6 separate regions of the Homo sapiens genome follow, and all the other regions are reported to be linked to region 1. The links are microRNA targets in miRTarBase. Many come from high-throughput screens and were not tested one by one. Region 1 holds a microRNA gene; each other region holds the end of a gene's coding sequence.
The links. The annotated mature microRNA hsa-miR-224-5p reads UCAAGUCACUAGUGGUUCCGUUUAG and lies in region 1 at 1,619-1,643, opposite strand. An mRNA with a match to its seed (bases 2 to 7 or 8) in the 3' UTR can be bound and repressed. Matches are read on the target gene's strand: a 7mer-m8 pairs with bases 2 to 8, a 7mer-A1 pairs with bases 2 to 7 and ends in A, and an 8mer does both.

Region 2: miRTarBase lists PTX3 as a target of hsa-miR-224-5p. The part of its 3' UTR that is shown has no 7-base or 8-base seed match.
Region 3: miRTarBase lists PELI1 as a target of hsa-miR-224-5p. Seed matches in the 3' UTR shown: 8mer at 1,631-1,638.
Region 4: miRTarBase lists VXN as a target of hsa-miR-224-5p. Seed matches in the 3' UTR shown: 7mer-m8 at 1,482-1,488.
Region 5: miRTarBase lists DIO1 as a target of hsa-miR-224-5p. Seed matches in the 3' UTR shown: 8mer at 1,403-1,410.
Region 6: the mRNA of ARL4D is a reported target of hsa-miR-224-5p. Seed matches in the 3' UTR shown: 7mer-m8 at 3,296-3,302.

The regions. Positions count from the first base shown.
Region 1 is chrX:151,957,010-151,961,009 of GRCh38, forward strand. MIR224 (microRNA 224) reads right to left here and starts at 1,649; the gene lies at 1,569-1,649. GABRE (gamma-aminobutyric acid type A receptor subunit epsilon) reads right to left here. Exons shown (of 9, transcript NM_004961.4): 6 at 2,830-2,967. MIR452 (microRNA 452) reads right to left here and starts at 2,703; the gene lies at 2,619-2,703.
Region 2 is chr3:157,442,469-157,446,589 of GRCh38, reverse strand. PTX3 (pentraxin 3) reads right to left here. Exons shown (of 3, transcript NM_002852.4): 3 at 2,957-4,121. The coding sequence ends at 3,611. All of the region lies in intron 4 of VEPH1 (ventricular zone expressed PH domain containing 1), which reads left to right. Among named protein-coding and RNA genes, the nearest start is that of PTX3, 7.7 kb to the right of the region's middle.
Region 3 is chr2:64,091,272-64,095,392 of GRCh38, reverse strand. It overlaps PELI1 (pellino E3 ubiquitin protein ligase 1), which reads left to right. Exons shown (of 7, transcript NM_020651.4): 7 at 125-2,741. The coding sequence ends at 691. Among named protein-coding and RNA genes, the nearest start is that of PELI1, 51 kb to the left of the region's middle.
Region 4 is chr8:66,515,480-66,519,600 of GRCh38, forward strand. VXN (vexin) reads left to right here. Exons shown (of 6, transcript NM_152765.4): 6 at 414-3,045. The coding sequence ends at 597. All of the region lies in intron 1 of LOC124901955 (a long non-coding RNA gene), which reads right to left. Among named protein-coding and RNA genes, the nearest start is that of VXN, 24 kb to the left of the region's middle.
Region 5 is chr1:53,909,613-53,913,661 of GRCh38, forward strand. DIO1 (iodothyronine deiodinase 1) reads left to right here. Exons shown (of 4, transcript NM_000792.7): 4 at 319-1,474. The coding sequence ends at 387. It also overlaps a transcript of IFT25 not described here. Among named protein-coding and RNA genes, the nearest start is that of DIO1, 17 kb to the left of the region's middle.
Region 6 is chr17:43,399,861-43,403,981 of GRCh38, reverse strand. It overlaps ARL4D (ARF like GTPase 4D), which reads right to left. Exons shown (of 2, transcript NM_001661.4): 2 at 2,845-4,121. The coding sequence ends at 3,644. Among named protein-coding and RNA genes, the nearest start is that of ARL4D, 2.9 kb to the right of the region's middle.

The DNA.
Region 1 (4,000 bases):
AAAATTCCTAGGCCTATAATTAGGTCGTCTTTTAAGTCCCTTCAAGGCAGGGCTCATGCAGGCCCTGTGGCTTAGCCCCTGCCCATCCAAGCTCAGAACAGCCTGGAACCCAGCAGACACTCAGCAACTCTTGCTCCTGTCAGGCAACAGCTTTGTAAAGCAGACCAGAACACTAACCTGTCCGTGTGTCCTCCTATTTTGGAAAGTGGATCAACTGCCCAGCAGGTCTGGGTGGGCTGGAGCTGAATGAGAAGAGCAGCCTTTCGTACTCACCTTGGCAGCACTGAAACTCAAGGAGCAAAGCTTCTCAGATTCTTCTGGAAGAAGGCAAGGGAGCGACCTGTTGTCAGTGGGAAACCTGTGTGTTGAGTATAGCTTTGGGATAGAACTCCTCCAGAGCTGCTGCACGGACCACCCTCGCACTTGCCTACTGGCCAGAATGTATTTATCAAAAGTCCTCTTGCCGTGGGATCTTGACTGCAATTTAAGACACTTCTAATTAGTTATACCCAGGCCCTGCAAAATTGCTGGGTTTATATAATATATTCTTGTTGCACGAAGATTTATTATTCTGTTGGATGATTCTATTTTAATTTTATTTATTCTGGCCAAAAAAGAACCTTCTCCGCTCGTCAAGAGATGCCAATTTGTCTTGAAGGACAAGAGAAAGATGCTAACACACACTTTCTTCTTCTTGAGGAGTGAGAGAAGCACGGGTAAGGAAAACAATATATCTGGGGCTGATGAACCAAAGCAAAAAAATATATGCTAAAGATGGTTTTCTGCTCAAACTCTTATCCTCTTTGACCAGATCATGGTTGGTCACTGCAGTGTCAGAGGGACACAATTAAATAGACCATGTCCAGAGGACTGGGACTAGAAGAATGAATGGACCCAAAGCTTTGAAGAATAAGGGAAGAAAAATAAACTAGGGCTATGTAGACTACAACAGACTATGATCCATGCCGGGAATGATGATGTTGATCGTTTAATCTCGGTCCTGTGAAACAGTGGCTGGACTAATGTAACCTGGACAGTTCCAAGGAAAAAGAACTAAGCTTAATGTGTGGAACTTCCAGAGACTCCAATTTCAGAAGAACAGGGAGAGTTTTTTGATGAACAGAACTGTCTAGAGAAGAAGGAAACCTCCTTGTAAGACAGTGAATTCCTGACCAGCAATAATATTCCATCAGAGGCTCCACAGCCATCAGTGAAGGGCAAGCCTCTCTCTGGAGGCAGGGCTGGACTCTCTTAGAAGCTCCTGAAGCAGAGATTCTCTGGATCAAGGTCCAAGATGGCCAGAGTAGCAGGCTACCACTGCATTCTGAACCCTTAATCGCCGAGCACGTAAGTATGCTCCAGATGGAGAGACCTGCCCCAGGGCCCAACTGGAAGAGTTTGAGACCAGTCCCAAAGATAACTCTGACATTGAAGGAACCACGTCTCCAGATCAACTAGTCTCCAGCAGAGGAGAAAGAAGACCTCTTTTCTCCTCAAGAATCCTCCTCACTCCCAAGGAGGTCTGGTGCTTACCTACTGTCATTGCTTTGATGATGATGCTGGCTCTGGGGCTTTGTAGTCACTAGGGCACCATTTTGAAACAATGCACAATCATCTACTAAACGGAACCACTAGTGACTTGAAAGCCCCTGGGCCTTATCTTCTCTGTCACTTTTGATGATGGGTCCCCACCTATCCGGGAAAAGCTGAGGTGCAGAAAACCAAGAGGCAGGCCCATGGTTAGCTGGCAGAAGAGCAAGGCTCCCAAGTCAAAGGTAGTAAAACCGCTTCCCCAGAGTCCCCAAGAAAAAGGGCAAGTATTTTTAAGGTAGCCCAGCCCTCTGCCCCTGCCTAATACTGTGCAAGCAAAGCTCTAGCCACATGAGCATGAGCTTTCCCTCATCCAGAGACTGACTCAATAAATGAAACAAAAGCAGATTTTCTGCCTAGTCACATGGTAGCAGAACAAGATGCCTCTCACGACAAATGGCTGGTTGGGTGACTGGCTCCATCCACATTCTGGAAACGATGAGGGCAGTGCCTTCACTGCCCTGAACTTGGTCAGGATGTGTGAAGAGTGTTTCCAGGGTTGCTCTGGGAGCTACCCTGGGGAGGTCCCTTGGCTCCTCATTCAGGTCACCTAGGAACATAAGTGAAGGTGCTCACATCTAATTGGGAGCTGAAGTGTAAGATACCCAGGACCTTCCCCTTTAGTCTTTGTCAGAGAAAAGGTCAGAAAACCAGTGGCCACTATGTCTATGTGGAATCCACCATGAAGCCTTTGATAAGAATCTGTGCTTTTCAGACTTGTTCCTTTAAGATAAATGTCAATGCAGCAGCCAGTGTAGCTGCTGTAACTTCCTCCAGACTTTCCCAGCCTTAAACTAGCTGACATTAGAACTCTAGCCTCCACCTCCCACTACAATGGACTTTGCTTCCCATTCAACCAGACTGGATTGGTTCTGGGTATGGAGAACTCACACGAGCTCCATTCCCCAAAGTCATCCAAAGAGGTCAGAGTTGTAACCTCGAAACTGAAGGGTCTGCATGAAAAAGCCAGCTGCACATTCCGACAGCAGCAGAACTTTATCTACTTACCTAACCTCTCAAGGAGCTTGGCAAAGCACTTACTTCTTTGCAGATGAGACTGAGACATAGTTACAAAGTCTCAGTTTCCTCTGCAAACAGTTGTAAGTGCTTAGCAATTATAAGACAGGAGCCATGTCTTACAATGTTTGCACGGGATGACTGCAAAGCATTTGTATGGATGGCCATCTCCAATCATCCCTACCACCTTCCTGGACTTCCGCCAAGCCCTGGCACGCTTACCAACTGGGGTTGTGATTATTTCAGTTTTGTTGCTCACTCCTGTAAAATCAAACTGGAAGAGCTTCCAGGAGTTCTTCTCATTGATTTCAAGCTTGAAATTTTCCCACTTGTAGATCATCTCATTCTCAGGATAGGAAACTGGAAAGGAATGTGAGAAAGAGGGTCTTATGAGACTTGGAAGCCCACCTGAGGTCTCCAATAGCATGAAGTCAGCCTGCACAATGCCTTGGAGTCCTGTCTCTGGCCTCACCAGCTGTGGGACCTTGCCTCTCTTACCTCATTGTTGAAGTCCATTCAATGAGTGCGTTTACTGAGCATTCCTCAGTATCAGGCCCTAGGCCAGAAATACAGAGATGAGCAAGGCATGAACCCTACCCTCAAGCAATCACATTTAATTTTATAAGACAGTGAGTATACTACTGTGATTTTTGGAGGAGCTCTGAAAAACCTATGTCCACAGAACAGCGGGGAAACAAAGTAGATAAAGGTCACTTGGGGACATACTCAGAAAAGACTTCATAAAGCAGGTGATATTCCCATTAAATCTTGAAACTCAAGTAAATATTCTCAATAAGAATGAGGTTGAAGGGGTTAAGGGGCAGTATAGAAAGGTGAAACACCTGGTGTATTGTGGAAAGGACAAAAGTTCAGGATGGCTAGCTCACAGAGGATGAGGTGCACAGGATTGGGTGGCAGGGTCCAGTTCATGAATGGCCTTGAGGTTCATTCTAAGGAATTTCAAATTGATCCATGAGAGTTAACGGCAGATTCGAGACTAAGAAGTGACCCAACCTAGGTGACCCTTCAGCTAGGTCACTCTGGTCCTTCTGTGAGGACAACATGTTGTCAAGGAGGCCAGTGTAGTAATCCAGGCAGAATTAAATTAATGCAGGTGGAAGTCAAAGCTGTACAGGGTGCAGAGAAATAGACAGCATCGATAGAGACTGGGAGGAAACACCAACAGGATGTGCTGATTGATTAGATGCAGGAGGTGAGGGAGAGGGAACATCAAAGTTCTTGATTTGCGCAACTGGGTGAGTGATGGTCCTCTTCAATGAGACAGATGGGAACCCAGAAGCAACACACTTGTTTTGGTGGTAGAGGTTTGGAGGAGACAATGAATTTCATTTTGGACATGTGCAGTTTCAAAGTGAAGATGTGGCAAAAGTCC
Region 2 (4,121 bases), not on the chromosome of region 1:
AAAATCAATTATAATTTCTTGTTTGTTTGCAAATCTAATTCTTTGTTAAAGTGAAGTCAATCAAGTAATTGTAAATAGAAAGCTCTACAATTCTACACTATATGCTTGGTAGTAGAATGTTCTGAATATATTTTAAAGGTGTTAATACTTATAAGCCAATTTATATTGTAATAGACAAGGAAAATAATATCAACTGTGTTTAGTTCATATATTATCTCTGCCAAAAAATTAGCTCTGCTGGAGATATATACATACATACTAGAGTGAAAAACTGTTCCAGTTTGCGTGGGACTGAGGGCTTCCCAGGACATGGAACTTTCAGTGCTAAAGATGGGACAGTCTTAGGCAAACCAGGACAGTTGTTCACTCTACACACACAAATAATATTATTTATATGTATATATATATATTACATATTTATTACACATACATCTTTCCTCCTAATAGCTTGAGTCATCTTGCACAATTACTTTACTATGCTGTAATATGGTGATGTCGCAATAAGTATTTGGTAAATGAAAATGTGTGACAATGTGCTAACATAAGCCAGCATGCTGATACTTCTCTTTAGATATTTTATCTCAGTTTTGCACATTTCTTATTTCCTCCTTTTGCTAACACCTATATATTCTCAAAGTCATTAAATGTTATTGCTTAGTTGTTGTTGTTTTTTTAAGTCAGATATCCAACTTCCTGAGAATTTGTAAAATGCATTTTCCAAGTTTAGGTTATGGGTGTTTTAGGGAGAATAAAGTGCGTAGTTGTTTTTGTTGCTGTTGTTGTTGTTTTGTTTTGCTTTTTTGAGATGAAGTCTCGCTCTGTTGCCAGGCTGCAGTGCAGTGGTGCGATCTTGGCTCACTGCAATCTCCGCCTCCCGGGTTCAAGAGATTCTCCTGCCTCACCCTCCTGAGTAGCTGGGATTACAGGCGCACGCCACTACACCCAGCTAATTTATGTATTTACTTATTTTGAGACAGAGTCTCACTCTGTTGCCAGGCTGGAGTGCAGTGCCATGATCTGGGCTCACTGCAACCTCCATCTCCCAGGTTCGAGAGATTCTCCTGCCTCAGCCTCCCGAGTAGCTGGGACTGCAGGTGCGTACCACCATGCCTGGCTCATTTTTTGTATTTTTAGTAGAAACGGGTTTCACCATGTTGGCCAGGATGGTCTCGATCTCCTGAGCTTCTGATCTGCCTGGCTCAGACTCCCAAAGTGCTGGGATTACAGGCTTGAGCCACCCCGCCTGGCTGTAGTTTTTTAAATTAAAATAAAAATTACTGGATCAAAATTAGATTGAGTGATCAACCAACTAAAAGATTAAACACGACAAAAGTATATTTTTCTCTCACGTAAAAGAAGTCCGTGGGCAGGCAGCTCAGGGCTGGCTAGATGGCTTCACAATGACCAGGAACCCATGCTTCTTCTGTATTGTTGCATGGGGTCTCCTGGTCTAAGATGGTTGCTGAAATTCCAGCCCATTACCATATTCCAATCAGACAGAAGGAGGAAAAGAATCACATATAATATTTCAGCGTTGGTCAGAACATAGTTATATGGCTGCATCAAGCTGCAAGTAATGTTGAAAAATATAGAATTTACTCTGAGTGGTCACATGTTCCACTAAAGCTAGGATTCTGTCATTTAGAGAAAGAGAGAAAATGAATATCTGGGAACAATTAGAAGTCCCTAGAACTCCTAGCTAGACTTACTGCTCTAACAGATGAAATTTCTACTTTTTTAACCCAAGTATTATTTTATTTTCTTCTATTTGTTTGTTCTTCACCCTAAACATGTAATTACTTAAAAAAATTAAAAGTTTTCTTATATTAAATTCTGTCAGCATATGAGTTTGCATTTATCTCGGCCTGCAACATCTGGCATCACTTAAACATGTATAATTCGTGTTGCAGCATGTAAAGGAATTTAAATCATGCCTAATTTTCTGCTTAAGTTTTGGGTCTAGTTTTCCTTCTTCCAGCTGGGAGTTCAAGTCATATAGACAATGGCTAGACAGGGACTTTGCATGTGCCCAGTGTGCCTAGAGCCTTGAATTATGTGATCTCCAAGAGTCTGAGACTGGCCTATCAGCCCCTAACTACAAGTGATTTTCTTAGAGGCTTAGCCTCGTTTGTGGGTTTCACAAGTGGAATGAAGCTATACTTATATGATGAACATACTCAAAAATTATTAGATTCATGGAATTTTATTGCTGAAAGGCACTGAGTCCAATCACCTCCTTTTACTGAGAAGAAGCAGAGGAGTTATGTAACTTGTCTGACACCTAGCTAGTTAGTTACAAAATTACTCCTGGTCCTATTCTCCAAACCTCATGAAGAGGAAATGTCCTGTGGTTGTCCATGCCCTATCTTTCAGAGGACATATCATCACTGTGGGCCCACAACATTTCAGAATCAGCTTTGTGAGGCCCTTCTATCAGCCCTCACATAGAATCTACAGGAGAATACTAGTGTGGTGGGGAAAAGTTACCTCCCCATCCACAGTGTGAAGGGGCTTGACCTCTCCCTTCTGAGTAAGGAAGAGAATGGGGTGTGCTTTCAGGGCAGGAGTTCTTTTCCAGATTCTTAGGTCTCCCAAATAACATTCCTAAGCCATGTCTTGCAGCATCATGTGTATCTGAGGAACTGTGATAATTCATGTTTGGTGTTTGTTTTTATGTTACACAGTACAGAAAGTTGTATAAGCTCCTAGAATTGTCAAATGGGAAGAGTCCTAGAGATTCTTATTTCATCAATTCCTTGATTTCTCAGCTGAGAAAACTAAAACCCACAGAGATGAATTGACTTGGCAGAGATAATATTTCTTGCTTATGATTTATAGGAAGCCAAACTTAAAACAAGTCTATAGTTGCTCATTCCTAACAATATTAACCATGCTGTTTACATAATAGTATCTGAAAACTAATTGCCTACTTTAAATGAAAAGAGAAAAGTACGAGTTTGCTCCAAAACATCTCTTAAATTTATAATTAAATGACGTGAGCTAGTTTTATAAAATATTTTATTTACAGTAGAGCTTTACAAAAATAGTCTTAAATTAATACAAATCCCTTTTGCAATATAACTTATATGACTATCTTCTCAAAAACGTGACATTCGATTATAACACATAAACTACATTTATAGTTGTTAAGTCACCTTGTAGTATAAATATGTTTTCATCTTTTTTTTGTAATAAGGTACATACCAATAACAATGAACAATGGACAACAAATCTTATTTTGTTATTCTTCCAATGTAAAATTCATCTCTGGCCAAAACAAAATTAACCAAAGAAAAGTAAAACAATTGTCCCTCTGTTCAACAATACAGTCCTTTTTAATTATTTGAGAGTTTATCTGACAGAGACACAGCATTAAACTGAAAGCACCATGGCATAAAGTCTAGTAACATTATCCTCAAAAGCTTTTTCCAATGTCTTTCCTTCAACTGTTTATTCAGTATTTGGCCAGTACAAATAAAGATTGGTCTCAACTCTCTCTTTCATTAGTCTCAAGTGTTCCTATTATGCACTGAGTTTTCAGACCTTCCCAACTGGCATGTGTTTTAAGTGTGAGTTTCTTTCTTTGGCTTCAAGTGGAGTTTCACAACATTTATGAAACATACTGAGCTCCTCCATGTGGCTGGATCTCTGTGACTCCCCACCCAACAATATTCCCCCGGATGTGACAAGACTCTGCTCCTCCGGTCTCTCTTATCTCTTCATTGCTAAGAACACTATCCCAGATATTGAAGCCTGTGAGTCTCCCAGAGAAGGCTAATGTTTCATCAAAGCCACCACCCACACAGCAGCCATTCTTTTCTTGGCCAATCTGCAGGATTCCTCCCTCAGGAACAATGTGACCTGTGGCCATCTCAACAGTGGTAGCCGCCAGTTCACCATTTACCCACAAGGATGTGAGCCCTTCCTCTGAATTCCAGGTGCCGCACAGGTGGGTCCACCTTCCCAGGGAAACCATGGCTTCAGCAACCAGTTTGTTCTCCTCTCCACCCACCACAAACACTATGGATTGGTAGCTGAGATACAGCTGGATTTCATATGGATTCCTCTTTGTGCCATAGGAAAACAGGATGGTTTTGTTTAATACATCTGTGGCTTTGACC
Region 3 (4,121 bases), not on the chromosome of region 1:
TGAATATTTAGTGAAAATCCTAGGAAACCTCATTTCTTGAGTAAGGAGTACTTAAAACCAAAACACTTATGTAAAAATCCAAAACAGAGTGGTGAATATGTTTTTCAACTCTTGTCTCCTCTAGGTGGAAATTGAAACCAATCAGTTACAAGATGGCTCGTTAATTGACCTCTGTGGTGCAACATTGTTATGGCGTACTGCAGAAGGCCTTTCCCACACTCCTACCGTGAAGCATTTAGAAGCTTTAAGACAGGAAATCAATGCAGCACGACCTCAGTGCCCTGTAGGGTTCAACACACTAGCATTTCCTAGTATGAAGAGGAAAGACGTTGTAGATGAAAAACAACCATGGGTATATCTAAACTGCGGCCATGTACATGGCTATCATAACTGGGGAAACAAAGAAGAACGTGATGGAAAAGATCGTGAATGTCCTATGTGTAGGTCTGTTGGTCCCTATGTTCCTCTGTGGCTTGGATGTGAAGCTGGATTTTATGTGGACGCCGGCCCTCCAACCCATGCGTTTAGCCCGTGTGGGCATGTGTGTTCAGAAAAGACAACTGCCTATTGGTCCCAGATCCCACTTCCTCATGGTACTCATACTTTTCATGCAGCCTGTCCCTTTTGTGCACATCAGTTGGCTGGTGAACAAGGCTACATCAGACTTATTTTTCAAGGACCTCTAGACTAACAGACCATTGTCTTGCAGGACTACATTATAAATTTATAAGCTAAGTGAGTTGGGTTTTCGAACCTGTTGTCCACGTCACAGTTTTTCTGCTCTGGTCATTTGCATTAAGATGAAGAATTTTTTAAAACATTTATAATAAATAGTAGCAATTTCTGAGCAAAAATCTGGGAAACTCAAGCAAAGGAATTTCTGAAAGTATCAGTCTTCTGAATTCTGAGTTTTGAAAATATATTTTGAGGAGAAAAAGACATAGTCTAATTTGATGCCTTCCTTTTAGTGTTTTTGAATCACCTATCCTCAGTGCTGAAATTGTTTTGTATAACTGAGGGTACTGTTGGTTCAAACTATGTTAGTTTACAGTTTGTTGCAAACATTGTAAAATACAGCGACATGTATATTAACTTTTTTCTATTTATCTTTATTATAGAAAATACCTTAGAATGTTCTTGATAGAGTAGCATGGTAACGATGGTGTCACACCCTTGGTGTGAATGGTAGCTTAGTGAGCAACCTAGCTCAAGGATTTGCAAAGTTAGGAAGAAGGACGAGAGAGCCTCTCTCCCCACCCCAATCTAAATATGGAATTTGGTAAATTAGAATACTTTGTAATTTGTAAGACCAAATTCATACTAATTACCCGCGTGAAAGGTGTTTGTTTTTAACAACATTGAAGATAATCAGGAAAGATTTTTTCTTAATGTTTCTCTCGAGCGTAGTACTATAACAAAAACTTAATGCTAAGAAACATTTTATATGCTCCTTTGGATATGCAATTTAATCTAGATTATCTATTTTTCTCCCATGATAACTAATCTGTTTTTAGTATCAGCAGCATTTGGCAAGTTTATTTTTTGGATATAAACTGTGGTTCATCTGTTCACTGTTTCTAGAAAAAAATCATTGCCATAAGAAAAAGTATAAATTAGCAAGAAAGGAGAGTGACTTGATTTGCTTTTGGAAAAAGAAATGCTTAATTAATTATTCTGTATTTGGCCTTATTCGGGCATTAGGAAATCTAGAGATCTAAAGGGTTGAATGACAATAGTGCCCCCGTTTTTAGCAGACCAGCCTTAACTCTGGGTTTGAATCCTAAGGAGATTGCCACAGTGAGACTTAAGGAAATGTTTGGTTGGCAGATGAGCACCAATGACTGCAGCGTGGAGTGACGCACTGCATGGTCTGTTTATTCTCTAATTCCAATATGTCTTTTGCTTCCAGAAGCAAGAAAAGTTTCTTCTCTCCCCTCCTTCCCACCCTTTTTTCAAAGGCACCACAAGTATAGACAGTTGCACTACATCAAATCTTTTTTTGACACTTGTAGAAACCAGTACACTTTTAGATTAGACAGTATCTTCTTTTAATATTTTGATTTGTTTTCCTTTAGTTTGAAAAGTTGTATAATACTTAACTGACTGTAGCAAAGTTTTATATGTGGTAGCATACCTTTAATTTATCCTATTACAAAACTGTTCTGAATTTTCTTTTGGTTTTTAAAAAACAAAACTTGTTGCTTAGAAGCCATGAATTATTTTATTTTACTTCAACTGTCGAAACTTCCTTGTTTTAAAAAATGATCATTTGGGTTCACTCAGGAAATGCATGTCAGGAAACTTGTATTATAAGTTTATTAGTTGTGATGTATCAGTAACTGCTGTTACCCCTTTTTCAAAGAAATGTAATTGATTTTGAAGTTTTCTAGATTGTCACATGCTTTGTGACTAATGCAAGAAAGCAAGTCCTGTGTTGTATTTGTTCTAGTCATTTTTATTCAGGCTATATATTGTAGCTTAATTTTTATTTGCAATTAATTTATTTAAACTAAGTAAATACTTTTCAAAATACATAATTGAATTCGTCTCTGTGAGTTCATTTTTGCATAATCGAGAATGAGAAACCAGAAGTGAAAACTGTGAACAACTCTATTCCACACTCCAAAAATACTCATTTGAAATAGATGAAGAGTTTGCATTTAATGTAACACTTTAAAGTATCTGGTTCTTTTTTAAAAGCATCTCTTACTAATAAAGGAACTTTGTTAGTGGTTGAATAATTGAGGCCTTTTCTAAGTTAAGCCTTGCTAGGGAGTTGGCACCTGTAAGTTGCATGTTAGACTATTTAAATAGTGGCTTCGTAACCATAAAAGTTGCACGTCCTTCCCAAAGTTGCCTGCATTTTCTTCTAACAGGTAAAAACAATCTCTTCTAACAGGGAAAAACCTGGCTCATTTTCTATCAAATTCAAGTTTTAAAAATTCAGGCAATTTAAATGATCAGTTGGGTGTTTGCTGTTCAAGCAGAACTGTTATTTTGTCATGGCCTAATAGAACACTTTTACTTAGTTGTATTAAGGGAATGTCAGTATTCTGGCCAAGGAGGAGAAAAAGTTGTATTTAGGTCTTCTAAATGCATTCTCAAGAAAGATAATCTTTATGGCTTAACTCTTTTATCAAAGTAATCTTTATATTTAAATGCTACTTAATTTGTTCAAGGAATTAAATTTCCCTTTATCTAAAATGTTAGGGTAATGAAGCAAGACATGAAGGGAAGCCATTCAGACATCAGAGTTCTTTTACTAGGTTATCCTCTTGCAACCTTCTTTGCTTACTTCCCTCATGTAAAAGTCTTCTAGTACATGTAAAGCAGGGTAGGAATAAATAATAATGTAAGTATGTAATTACTTCTTCTTTTTTTTTTTTTTTTTGAGACGGAGTCTCACTCTGTCGCCAGGCTGGAGTGCAGTGGCGTGATCTCGGCTCACTGCAAGCTCCACCTTCCGGGTTCACGCCATTCTCCTGCCTCAGCCTCCCAAGTAGCTGGGATAACAAGCGCCCGCCACCATGCCCAGCTAGTTTTTGTATTTTTAGTAGAGACAGGGTTTCACCATGTTGGTCAGGATGCTCTCGATCTCCTGACCTTGTGATCCGCCCACTTTGGCCTCCCAAAGTGCTAGGATTAATTACTTCTAACATTTGAGTGTCCCACTTCACTCTTCCCGTCTGACCCAGACTGAGGGCACTGGTGAAAGTCCACTTATTATGTCTCTAAGGTTATAAGCTCAACATAACTCTAACACTTTGGCCCTTCGTTGCAATGGATCATCTTGTGCTACCACTTCTTTTTTTGTTTAAGACAGGGTCTTGCTCTGTTGCCGAGGCTGGACTGCAGTGGTGCAATCACAGCTCACCACAGCCTCAACCTCCCAGGCTCAAGCAATTCTTCCACCTCTACCTCCTGAGTAGCTGGGACTACAGATACACACCACCATTCCTGGCTAATTTTTTTCATTTTCAGTAGAGACGCCGTCTGACTAGATTTCCCAGGCTGGTCTCAAACTCCTGCTCTTAAGCAATCCTCCTGCCTCAGCCTCCCAAAGTGCTTGGATTACAGGTGTTGAGCCACCACACCCTGCTGTGCTACCACACTTTAGAGAC
Region 4 (4,121 bases), not on the chromosome of region 1:
GCCTGAGGTCACACAGCAGATGGGAAGCAGGATTCCATCCCAGACCTCATGCTCTTTCAATAGCTACTGTTTGGGGAACTGTCCTTTCCAGCAAGTTTGTTCACATAGAGGCTGAAGGGGTAGGTATGCAGAGCCTTTGGCAAGACCAGACCCAGAGCAGGGGGACAGTAGCAGAACTTGAGATCCCATGAACCAGTGTGTTCAGGGTCACCTCCTCCATTCATGCCATGGGAAGCTTTCCCCAAGGGAAGACGTTCCTGTGAGGGTCCCAACAGTGACCTTACAGCTACGTGGATCCCGGTCACTGAGGAGGAGCAGAGGAGAGAGAGCTCTGGCCACTCTTCTTAAGGGCAAAAATGAAGTTTGGCTTGTGAGCAGACCACCCTCCCCACCCACTCCTGGCTTTTCTTTAGATCCAGACATCTCAAGAAGATGACTGAAGAGTATCCAGCCCTTCCCCAAGGAGCAGAAGCCTCTCTACCACTGACAGGCAGTGCTTCCTGCGGCGTCCCCGGCATCCTCCGGAAAATGTGGACAAGGCACAAGAAGAAGTCTGAATATGTGGGAGCCACCAACAGCGCCTTTGAGGCCGACTAAAGGTGACCCTCTTCAAGTGCCCTGTGTTGGCCAAGGTTCCCCGGACAAGAGGAAAAACCTTCAGGATTGAAACTGAGCCACACGCACCTCTGCTAGTAGCTGGTCCAAACCCATTATCCTCCCTCACTCATTGATTACCCTGGGATAGGGCACAGGAAAGAAATGTCCCTCGAAGGCAATATAAAACTGCCCCTTCTTAGAATTGCTAAAGCCATTGGTCTGAAAGTGACTTTGGGAGGTCATAAAGTTTGTATCTCTATCTTTAAGCAAAAAATTAAACTTTCCCAGCTCATTTTAAAGACCTCCAAGGAAGGAAAAAAGCAATTCCTCTGTCTTCCTTGTGAGTTGCTCTAAAGTGTGTGATTTTCTAGTGTAAATGGACTTTGAGGCACTTGTAAACACAATGGTTCTTACTGTTTCCATTACTGCATTTACTTCACCTTGACAAGGTACAATTTTCAAGGACAAAGCACTATATATAAAGTTAGTAGTTCTAATATCCACTTGAGAGTATACTCAAGATTGATTTTCATGGCCATTTGGCATGATTGCATGAATTCTCTATTCTTTTATGTGCAGTTTTTCTATAGAAAAACATTAAAAGTTAAATGTTGACTGCTAATGTTTTCTGAAGTGGCATAGTCTAGTGGAATCAATAATCCCTTGCTTTGGTATAATAATTTGAACTTTTGAAAGTGCTTTCTCATCCGTTATCTCTTATCTTCACAAAACCCCTGTGGAAGAAAGCACAATTATTCCCAATCTGCAGAGGGGGAAATGGAGGCCTTCAGAGATTACAGGACCAGATACCAGGTAGTGGAACCAGACAGCAGGTCCTTAACTTCTCTCCAGTGGACTCCCTGCTTTGCCTACTCTCTAGCAACTGACTTGGGGAAGTTTTTAAATGGTGAGAGTGTGTCTCTGGGGGCAACCATTGAAAAGAAGACTCTGATATGTTGGAACAAGTAAGGGATTTGAATGAAATACACTATTATATCTTATATGTTAGCTTGAACCAGAAAAAGTTGACATTTTTGTAGGTCAAAAACAATTGAGCATCAATTTCATATGGTTCAACCTCATATATGATACTATGCTTTTCTTCTATCAGTGAAAATGTCATCATCAATTCCATTGTCAACATTAGTAGCCTTAAAACAATAACATAATAATAATGATGATAATGATACTTATAGCTATCATCTATTAAATGCCTATGTTTCAGGCATGATACTAGGCAATTTATATATATCATCCTAATCTTTCTAAAAACTCTATTAGGTGGCCCTATCCACTTAATAGATGCCAATTCAAAGAGGTTAAATGATTAGACTAAGGCACCTAACTTATGTGAGTGTCAGGCTTCAATGCCTGTGTTAGAGCTACTCCTTCACACAAAATAGTTCAGAACATAGAGAAGGACCAAGGTTAATAAATGATTTTCATCCCAAACACTAAACATGATTGATGGGTAGAGGCTGCCCGAAGTACTGTGTAAAGATGGAATCTGAGATAGAAGAATGCTGTGGTCAATTAGTAATTCTTGCCCATGGAGGGATTAGTGACACATGCCTTGTATATTTGTCATCTGTGGCCTAAACTCTGCCCCTGAAGGTTTGTTTTCTAATTCAGAGGTTTAAATTAATCTAGCCCACTTAATAAAACCAGAGATCCTATGGGAAATTTAGCCTAAGACAGTGCTGGAAATTGCCATATGTTGATACAAAGAAGTGTTTGGCCACATTACAGGTCTCAGACTCAACTGCTATGTGTGACTGCCGCTCTGTGCCTATGTCTTGCTTTTTTGCTGAGTTCCCTATTTCCATATCTCCAGGTGAATCCATGAGAAGCGAGAGGGTGGCTGAGAGGCCTGGGCCTCTGGGATTCCACCTTGCTATCTCTGCTCTTCAACCATTGTTTTAGACTCTGAACACCAGATCCTCATATCTGAAAGTGATTTGGAGACCTGGGCATCAAGTGCTCTTTTAAGAAGGGGCTATCCCAGAGGACTGTTCAAAAGTCTCATTCAATAGAGATGTTGGAGTCCAGAACAAAGTTAGGGAGCAAACCAGTAACCTATGCTGGTCGTAACAGAGGATCCTACAATTACGTTTGTTTTTAAGACAGGATTTTGCTGTGTTGCCCAGACTGGTCTCAAACTCCTGGGTTCAAGAGATCCATCCTCCCACCTCAGTCTCCTGAAAGCTGGGATGACAGGCACATGCCACCACACCTAGCTCCTTACAACCATTTATTTTAACTTATTTCATTTATAACTGGTATCTTTCATTTGTATGTGGCAGCTAGAGATTTATATAGGATGGAAGTAATTTATTTTTAATTTAAATATTTCATGTTGAACTGTTTGCCTTGTATGGAACATTTTACTTGGCCAATTCAAATAAAAATAAAGTCAGCTTTGTTTGTGACATTCATGCACCACCATAAGAGCATGCCTGAGGCTCCCTTGTTGAATAAAAGAGGCGACTTTCACGAAGGGAAAGAATTAGGAGCCTGTACCTCACTGCTCCTTTAAATGAGAGGGATGGTAAGAAAGAACCCAGCGTGTTCTTTCCATCCTAAGGCAAAGTCTGGTTTTGATATTACGGGCACTGCTCAGCAGTTAACAGGAGGGTCACTTCTGTCAGGGCCTGGACTGGCCTGACCTGTCCCCCCTGGGGTCAACCTCCTCCTGCTGATGCTGACTCCTTGGTCCCCACCATAAGCCCCAGGGGGTCCAGTGGTTATTGCCAGCCTGCTAGTCTCTCACCCTTGATGGGAGGAAGATGCAACCTTCCTGCTCTGTGCCCACCTCTTGTTCAGCCTCGCTAGAGACTGCCCCCATGACTCATGTCACAGCCACTTGCAGAAGGACGCCAAGGCTCGCTGCAGCAGGCCGTCCGGGAATGGCCAAGCCTGGAGTCTTCTCGAGCCAGAGGCAACAGGGTTTCCAGGACATTTAGGGTAATAAAATCGCCTCTGTTAGGACCCAGTCCAGTCAAATATTTCTGTTCTTACTTGAGCACTCACTGTGGCGGTTCCCCCACCCCACCCAGCACTCAGGTTGTCTTTTGAGCTGGCAGATGGGCAGTGGGTAGGAAAAGCAGCACCAGCCAGAGCCTGACTTTAAAAGGAATCATGTGACACGTTGTCTCCTTGAAATTGGCAGAGACCGAAGGACAAGCAAGGAAAAAACACAGGCAGAAAGATGACTCTCCTAAGGATTAGAATTTGCATTGAGTTTTGCAAACCACTGAGAGCTTTGTGATTGAATCCATCACCACAATGCGCAGCAAGAAGGCTCTCATTCTGCAGACCAGGCCACATGCCTAGAAATTTATTTAAATTTTTTGTTACTTTGGACCTGGGACAATATTCATACCTTTTAATACCCTTGGTCGGGAGGGAGCAGGGAGGGTGAGAAATGGCAGCAGAAGGAGCCTGACATGCAGCAGGTCATCCGTTGGGTAGCTGAGCTGCACCAGCCACGTCCCTATGTCCTCGTCGGGGAGCCAAGCCAAGAG
Region 5 (4,049 bases), not on the chromosome of region 1:
GAAGATTAGGCCAGTCTGAAGGTCTGATTATGGAAGAAAAGCTTATTTGTACAGAACCCTTCTCTTTTTGAAAGACTATGTCACTTTATGTCCTCTAGTTTTTCTACTTCTCTGTCCAACCTTCCTGTTAACTGCTGATGCCACTGTACACACTTTCTCAACCACCTCACGGTTGCATCTGCCATTGAATTAGCCATGCTGATGGCTCCTACACAGACATCATTTGACCACCTCTTGCAACTAACCTCCAGACCTACATGTTCCTTACAACTTGGAAATCCTTACAAGTTGGGAATGCCTGATTCGTTTCTCTTGCAGGGTAAATCTGGCCCTTGGAACTACAACCCAGAGGAAGTTCGTGCTGTTCTGGAAAAGCTCCACAGTTAATCTGGACAGATACCTCAATTCTAGGTGACCAACGGGAGGGCTTCTCAAGGCTTAGCTCTCCCTGAGACCCAGCTGGCTTTTACCCTTGACCTGTGTCCCTAGCTGAATCACTAGCTCAGATTTTTCTGATCTAAGCAAACAACTCCCAGCTGAGGAATGCAGGCCACAGCACCCAATCAAGACAAATTGTTATTATCAGAAAATGAAGCAACACTTGAGCTGTTCAGGCCAGTTCCCTGTTGAAGAAACAGTTCCCTGTTGAAGAAAGTAGAGCCTGACACTGCTCCCACTTTGGAGACCACATTCCCTGCACACGGTCTTTGAGAGAGCAGTTGCACTCTACAGGCACACTTCTGAGGTACGGTATCTCTCTCCAGCCACTCTGATACCAAGTAATTCAAGCTGGCATTCCTTCTATTAGGGAAATTCATTTTACCCAATTTGCATTTATGGAATTGATCATTTAAGACACTAAATTAGTTTTTAGAACCAATTATGGGAAGAATTCCAGTTGTTAGGAAGAGATGAGGAGTTGGAAGAGGAGGGATTAGAAACAGGAGGAGGCAGTCATCCTCTCCTTGCCAAAAGATTTAAACCTGTCCACATTGGTGGTGATGATGGGTGAGTTTCCATGGTAACACATCCCTAATTTTACCAGGGAAGAGGAGAGTACTCACTTTACCATCTTTGAATATATTTCATAGAAATCTAGCTCTCTGTACCCTGAAATCTTCCACTAGCCTCACTTTTCAACAGAGTCATCTAGAAGGGAGGGTTGGCTTCCCAAAAGCATAACCTTGACCAAACCAAACAATAGGCACCAGCAATGCTGTCATTCAGTTATGCAGAAGCTCATTTGTGAAATTCTGTTTCTCTGATTTCTTCGCAAGTCTCTTAATGGTCATTTGTGTTAGATTACATCAAACTGATGGATAGCCATTGGTATTCATCTATTTTAACTCTGTGTCTTTACATATTTGTTTATGATGGCCACAGCCTAAAGTACACACGGCTGTGACTTGATTCAAAAGAAAATGTTATAAGATGCAGTAAACTAATAACAGAATTATTAAAATATATCAGGCTATTTTGGATGGCTTCCGTGTGATCTTTACATTTTCTTTTCCAATTTGTATCTGATTACCCAGTGTAATCTGACCAGCAAAAATACCATACGCTGAAAGGGCCTCATTTTGGGGGAAGAACATTCAGGCCCTATGTTACATGTTAAATGTGGTTTTGTCTTATGAACTCCTGCTGGAGTGAAATAATTTTTCACATTGGAATCAAATTACCTTTATAACATGACATAAAAGAATGGATCAGGAGACCTTTTGCTAGCATGAGAACATATTCTCTTTAGCTATACTTTAGTTGCTACAAAGTTAATATTATTAATGTTGTCACTTTATTATTTTAAAAATAGTTATTGCAAGAGGCTGAGGCAGGAGAATCACTTGAACTCAGGAGGCAGAGGTTGCAGTGAGCCAAGATGGTGCCCCTTAATTCCAGCCTGGGTGACAGAGCGAGACTCCGTAAAAAAAGTTATTATTAATCATCTACCAGGCACAGTCACTTTCAGATATGTTATCTCATTTAATCTCTATATATCTCAAAGAGGAGATGATTATCCCCATTTTACAGATGAGGAAATCAAGGCTCAGAGAGTTAAGTAACTTGCATAACTTCTCAGAACTAGTAAGTAACAAGCCGAGATTCAAACCGGATCTCTAACTTCAAGGCCAGAGTCCTAGCTCTGTTCCTGCCAGCTGGGTGACTTTGATCAAGCTGCCTTGGTATCTTGACCTATAAAACAGGGTATCAATAGTGCCTAGTCCATAGATTCATGAGTAGAGCACTCAGAACTGTGCCTGACTTGGAGAAAGTGTCATGAAGTGTTGGCTATTATTACGATTATCATAATTATTGTCCCACAACTGCTTCCTCGGGCCCTTTTTTGGGGGGTTGGAGGTGGAAGGAGGACAAGACAATATGGATGCTGAATAAAAATTCCCCATCCTACCAAAGCCACTCATGACCAACATAGGCATGAGTTTGTGAGGCTATACTGAAAATGAGAAGCTGTGACAATGATGGGACTGAAGCACAGATGAGCACTCACTGTTCCTCCTAAGTACTAAGTTGCACAAAAGGAGACAGGATGTAAGGCAAGCCTCTTCTGAATCACTTCTCTGATGGTCTTCCAATTCGTGTCTACAAATGCACAGAAATCTCCCCATTTTCACTAAATAATAGTAGCTGGAACTGAGGAGCTTTTCAGAATGACAAAAATAGACCCCCGGCTTTCCAATTAGATTCTCTTCAACTTAATGCATCAAACATTGAGCATTGATTCTTTTCTGGGTGCAGAGTTATGCAAAGATGGACGAGGAAGAGCTGTTGTCCTCCAGCAGCTTAATCTCACAGGGGACCAGACATACACTCCAATGACCATAACTCAAGGTGGAGTATATGTTAGAGTGAAGACTAAGTGCTCAGAGGGCACAGAGGAGACAGCAATCCTCTGAGCTGGGTGAATCCAACAATGCTTTTTGGAGCTGGTGGCATTTGAGCTGGTCTTCAAAGATGCCCAGTACTTCCATAATTTGGGATGGGAGCCTGGAGAAGATGGGAAGGGAGAAGGGCATTTCAAGTGAGGAGAACTACAAGGGCAAAGGTGGGAAAAGGGCTATGTGCAGGAGACTGCAAGAGGTTTGGGTTCAATTCCAATCCTTTTGTTTTACAGTTGCTAGCCATAGGCCAGTGTAGTTCAATGGTTCTCAAACTTGGGCATGCAACAAAATCACCTGGAGGGCTTGCTGCAACACAGATTCTTGGTTCTCATCTCCAGAGTTTACGATTCGACAGATCTGAGGTTGAGCTAGGGAATTTGCATTACTAACAAGTTCTCAGGTGAGGCTGATCCTGCTGTCCCAGGAACCACACTTTGAGAACCGCTGCTATAGTAGGTGTTGTTGGTGCTCTGCCCAGATGCCTTTTACCAAGCCATTGTACTCATGAGCCAGCTGCTGTGAGTGTTGGCTGCTAATGGCTCACAGATGCACTCTTTCCTGAGAATTTGCCCTCATGACAGGAGCTATCTTACCCAGAAATACCTGTGAAATTATGTCCTTCACCTGAGTGTGGCCCACAGCCAGTGACTGATGGATTTGAAATTCCAAAGCCTTTTCCCTTGCTGCAAGGTGGGGCAGTCTACTTCTCCGGTGCCAGTCATGCTTCAGAGCTCCCTATGGGATCAGACTGAGGCTAGACTTCAGCAGAAGCCATGTTTAATTTTTCCCTCTGCCTGATCCTGCTTCTCTCACTTCCTTAGAGGTTTCTCCTGAGAGCGCTCCCTCAATAAATCACTCTTCAAAGAATCCTTGTTGGAGGCTCTGCTTCTAGAGAACCTGACCCAGAGCAGTCCCCTTCTGGGTCTTTTCTGATTATGAGTCTTCATTAGTGGGGCTTGTTATCTGCTGAAACATAGTGTGGGATGAGGAGTCAGGTGGCGCAATCTGCAACTTTCATTGACATTCGCTGTCTTGAGTAGCCTATTATTAACTAAATTCCTTCCTTTGAGATGGGGCTCAGGGAAATCCCCTTCAGTTACACTCCCTTTACTTTGGATGCTTTTTCACCTTCTGCTATGGATTGAATTG
Region 6 (4,121 bases), not on the chromosome of region 1:
AGGGAGGGGGGAATCTGAGCTCTGAGATAACTGTGCTCGCTCCCTGTCTCCTACCTCCTATCCTCTGCCCTGGGAGTACAAAGACCTGGCCTGGGAGGAAGGAGCTGGGTGCACTGCTAAGTGGCCGTGTATCCGCGGGCAAGTCACTGCCCACTCTGGGCCTTAGGGACTTCTTTCCTTCCTCTGTCTTCCTTGAGCCCTTGCAGCATGGAGAGGACTGGAAAGGGCATGGGAAAGTGGGGGACCACTGCCATCTTTGCCCTCATGATGAGGAGCTCCAGGAAAGGAAGGCTTCCATCTGGATTTTATGTTCCAACCTGTGCAAGAAGGGGTGGCTGGGTGGGGAAGGACAGCTCAGAAGAAAGCCTCAACTCTGGGGTTGGGCATGGTGGCTCACGCCTGTAATCCCAGCACTTTGGGAGGCTGAGGCAGGCAAATCACTTGAAGTCAGGAGTTCAGGACCAGGCTGATCAACGTGGCGAAACCCCATCTCTACTAAAGATACAGAAATTACCCAGGCATGGTGGTGCGTGACTGTAATCCCAGCTACTTGGGAGGCTGAGACATGGGAATTACTTGAACCGGGGAGGTGGAGGTTGCAGCAAGCCAAGATCGCACCGCTGCACTCCAGCCTGGGTAACAGAGGAGGAAAAAAAAAAAAAAAAAACGGCCTCTACTCTGGAACTCTGGGTCTACAGCAGGTTTCCCTCAACTTTACAGGCAACTAGCCTCAGCCACACCACTCTTGGCCCCCAAGGAAGAGCTCCTCAGCACCCATGCCAGGGTCTCGAAGAAATCCTACTTAATAGAGAAGCCAGTACAGGGCAAATATAACCTCACTCTCCATCCTGATCACACCCTCATTCCTTGCCCTTGCCCTGAGTTCAAAATGCAGAATCTCTGGGCAGGACTGGAGAGTGAGAGGTTCTCTCTCCCTCTCTCATCCTGCAGATAGGAAGTGATCCCTTCCCTTCCAGCTCTCCAGTCCCTTTGATGAGCCAAGGCAGGAGGATTATTCCAAAGCTCCTGACTCTGACCCGGCCACAATTTGTGGCTTTCTACTCAGAATTCCCCAGTGTTCCCCTCTCCCCACTACTCTGGCAGAGCAGTTGGCTTCTCCGTCTCTCTCTGACACAAGCCCCCATCTTCCTTTAGTGCCACCAGCTGGACAGTCAGGCCAGAGGGACTGGGGAAGAGCCTGGGACATTCAAAGGCCTCCTGTGGACCATGATCCCTGACCGCCCCCAGGGCTGGGCATGGGGAAGCAGAAGATACCTGTTTTAAGCAGGTAGGGAAGGAGTGTGGTTGGAAGAGCCAGAATCAGGAGCTGACATCTTGGAGGCCCCTCTGCTAGGGATTGGGGAACACCTCTGCACCTCTTCCCCCAAATCTGGAGACCTAAGTACACCAAGTGACAAGAAATGAAAATGTATAATTGAAGATTTTAAGACAAAAGAGCAGAATTTGGGTGGGGTGGGGAGGAAAGATCTCCTGGCAGGACAGAGGGTCAGTTCTGGCCAGTTCCTTTCCAGCCTGGACTGGGGCCTCAACCTGTCCTTGGGCTATAGGACTGTGCCCCAAAAAGACTGGGAGAGGAGTCGCAGGTGTGTCTGGGGGAGGGGCAGGTAGCACATGTTCCCAGCAGAACCAGCCCAGCAGTTCTGTCAAGCAGGCCCTAGCACTGACGCACACTTGGGCACCCTTCCGGATCAATGCACACTCACCCCAATCCTGCCAGCTACAGGGATGGGGAGGGGACCAAATCTGAGCTTCTGGCAGCGCTGGGTAGGAAGAAGCAAGTTCTTTAGGAAACCTTCCCCAGAAGTGGGGGTTGCCGGCACCTTCTCTTTCTCCCCAGGTCCTTTCATCTGATTCCGGAGAAGAGGAGACAGAATTGGGGAGAAGCAGGGTGTGAACGCTGAACCTGCTCTGGGGATTGTGTGTTTGCACAAAAGGTGGCAGGGGGTGGCTGGAGGGCTCGACAACTGGAAAGAATTGTGCTTGTTTTTTTTCTTTTTTAGAGACATGGTCTCCCTATGTTGCCCAGGCTGGTCTTGAACTCCTGGGCCCAAGCCATCCTCCTGCCTCAGCCTCCCAAAGTGCTGGGATTACAGGCGTGAGCCACTGTGCCCGGCCTTGTGCTTAGTTCTTACTCACTGCTCCCACCCAGAAGATTAAGAGGATCTAAGGGTTCTGTTATCAGACATAGCTGGCCCTGGTGCTGGTGAGTAGGGGCACTCAAGCCCTTGTAATATTAGCATTTTATTCTTACAATCACCACAAATACTGGGGGCTTATGTCTTCCCCCTTCTATCTTGGAGTCTGGAGGGTGTATGTCCAGCAGTCCTCTCTGCCACCAAGCACAAACAGCTACTACTTCTGCCCCTCTCGTGAGAAGAGCTACCATTCCCAGAGCTGGAAAACTCATGGCTTAGTCACCAGGGCCAGGCTGGCTCAATCCAGCCCAGGCCTCCCTAGCACCAGCCGCTGCCATCATGCCAGTGAGCCAGTCAGCAGGATTGAGTACACAGAGGTGACTTAAGGCCAGGGAGGAATTACTTTCCACTCTCACCACATCTTACAAGGAGGAAAAAAATCAAACCAACCTAAGACTGGGGAAGTGGGGAGGATGGGAACAGAATGGCTCTTTGAGGACTTACCTATATAGACTTAGGTGTCACCAAGGTCAAGAACCTAGGAGTAGCTCAGACTAGCAAAATTTGAAGTTAAATCTGCAAGGAGCAGTTGATATAAGGGACAAGTAAGACCCAGAGGATGAGGGGAGGGGTGTTAAATCAGAGAAAAAGGAAGTGACCCCACCCAAAAAACTACAGAGATCAGGCAATAGCTTGAGGGGTTTTCCACTCCCCCCTATAATTTTCACAAGCCATCCCGTAACACACAATCTAATTTTTATAAGTGCTTGCTTTGCAAATTCAGCTTCAAGATAAATCTCCCTCCCCCTGCGCCACAACCCCATATAGAAATCTTGAATTGTCTCTGGGGCAAGATAAGGAGAGGAAAATGCCCCAGACCAAGGTAAGAGCTACAGTTATCAGTCTTTAATAACTTACAGGCAAATGCTAAAAAATAGTTAATAACAATAATACAGAGGACACACACAGCTTATAAAAAGGGTCATGGATCTACAAATGTGGGGAGGGGTTCTTGGCACTTTCACAGACACAAAAATAAAAACTATGTGACTGGTATTCCTAGAAAAGCAGCCTGGGGAGACTCCCCAGTTGGGGGACAGAGGAAGGGGAGATAGTTATTTCATCCCAAACACATTCTCCAAGTCACTTCCATCCCCCCGCCCCCAAACACATCCAATTAAAAATTTTTAGCCAGAGAAGAAAAATAAGAAACAGGGTCGAGGTAGAGTCACAGTTTACATTTACGTCTCCACAGTCCTGCAGCGCCCACTTCTCCAGAGAGGATGAGAGAGATATGCAAAGACATCCCATCTCCCATCCCCACCCCAGTGTGGCACCAAAACGGGACACCCCATGCTCCTCTCTCCTTCATTGAGGTGGACAGGTCCTGCACCCCAGTCTGACTGAGAGGTCACAGGCTGGTCCCACCCTGCTGTCCAAGTGTGCAGACCCCTACTAGGTGGGAGGAAAGGGAGGGGGGGCTTGGGTCACCGTCTCTTCTTGCCACCCCGAGCTGCCTTCTTCCTCTTGAGGATCATCTCATAGAGGCGCTCAAGGCCCTGCTGCAGGCCCAGACCGTCCACAGCGCTGCAGCCTTGCACATGAGTGAGAGTGGCGGCTGCTAGCTCTCGGACTGCCAGCCTCTTCTCCACCTCAGCAGCGCTCAGTGCCCCGGGCTGGTCCTGCTTGTTGGCCAGCACCAGCACTGGCACGCCCTGGTTGTCCGAGGCCCGGCTGATTCGGTGCAACTCCACCTTGGCTTCCTCCAGCCGCTCAGCCTCCGCAGCGTCCACCACAAACACTAGACCGTCTGTCCGGCGGGTATAAGAGCGCCACAGTGGTCGCAGCTTCTCCTGCCCCCCGACGTCCCACACTTGGAAGGTGATGCCACGCGATCCCCCGAGGGGCACCCGGATCTTCTCGGTGTTGAAGCCTTTGGTGGGGACACTCTGGACAAACTCCTTG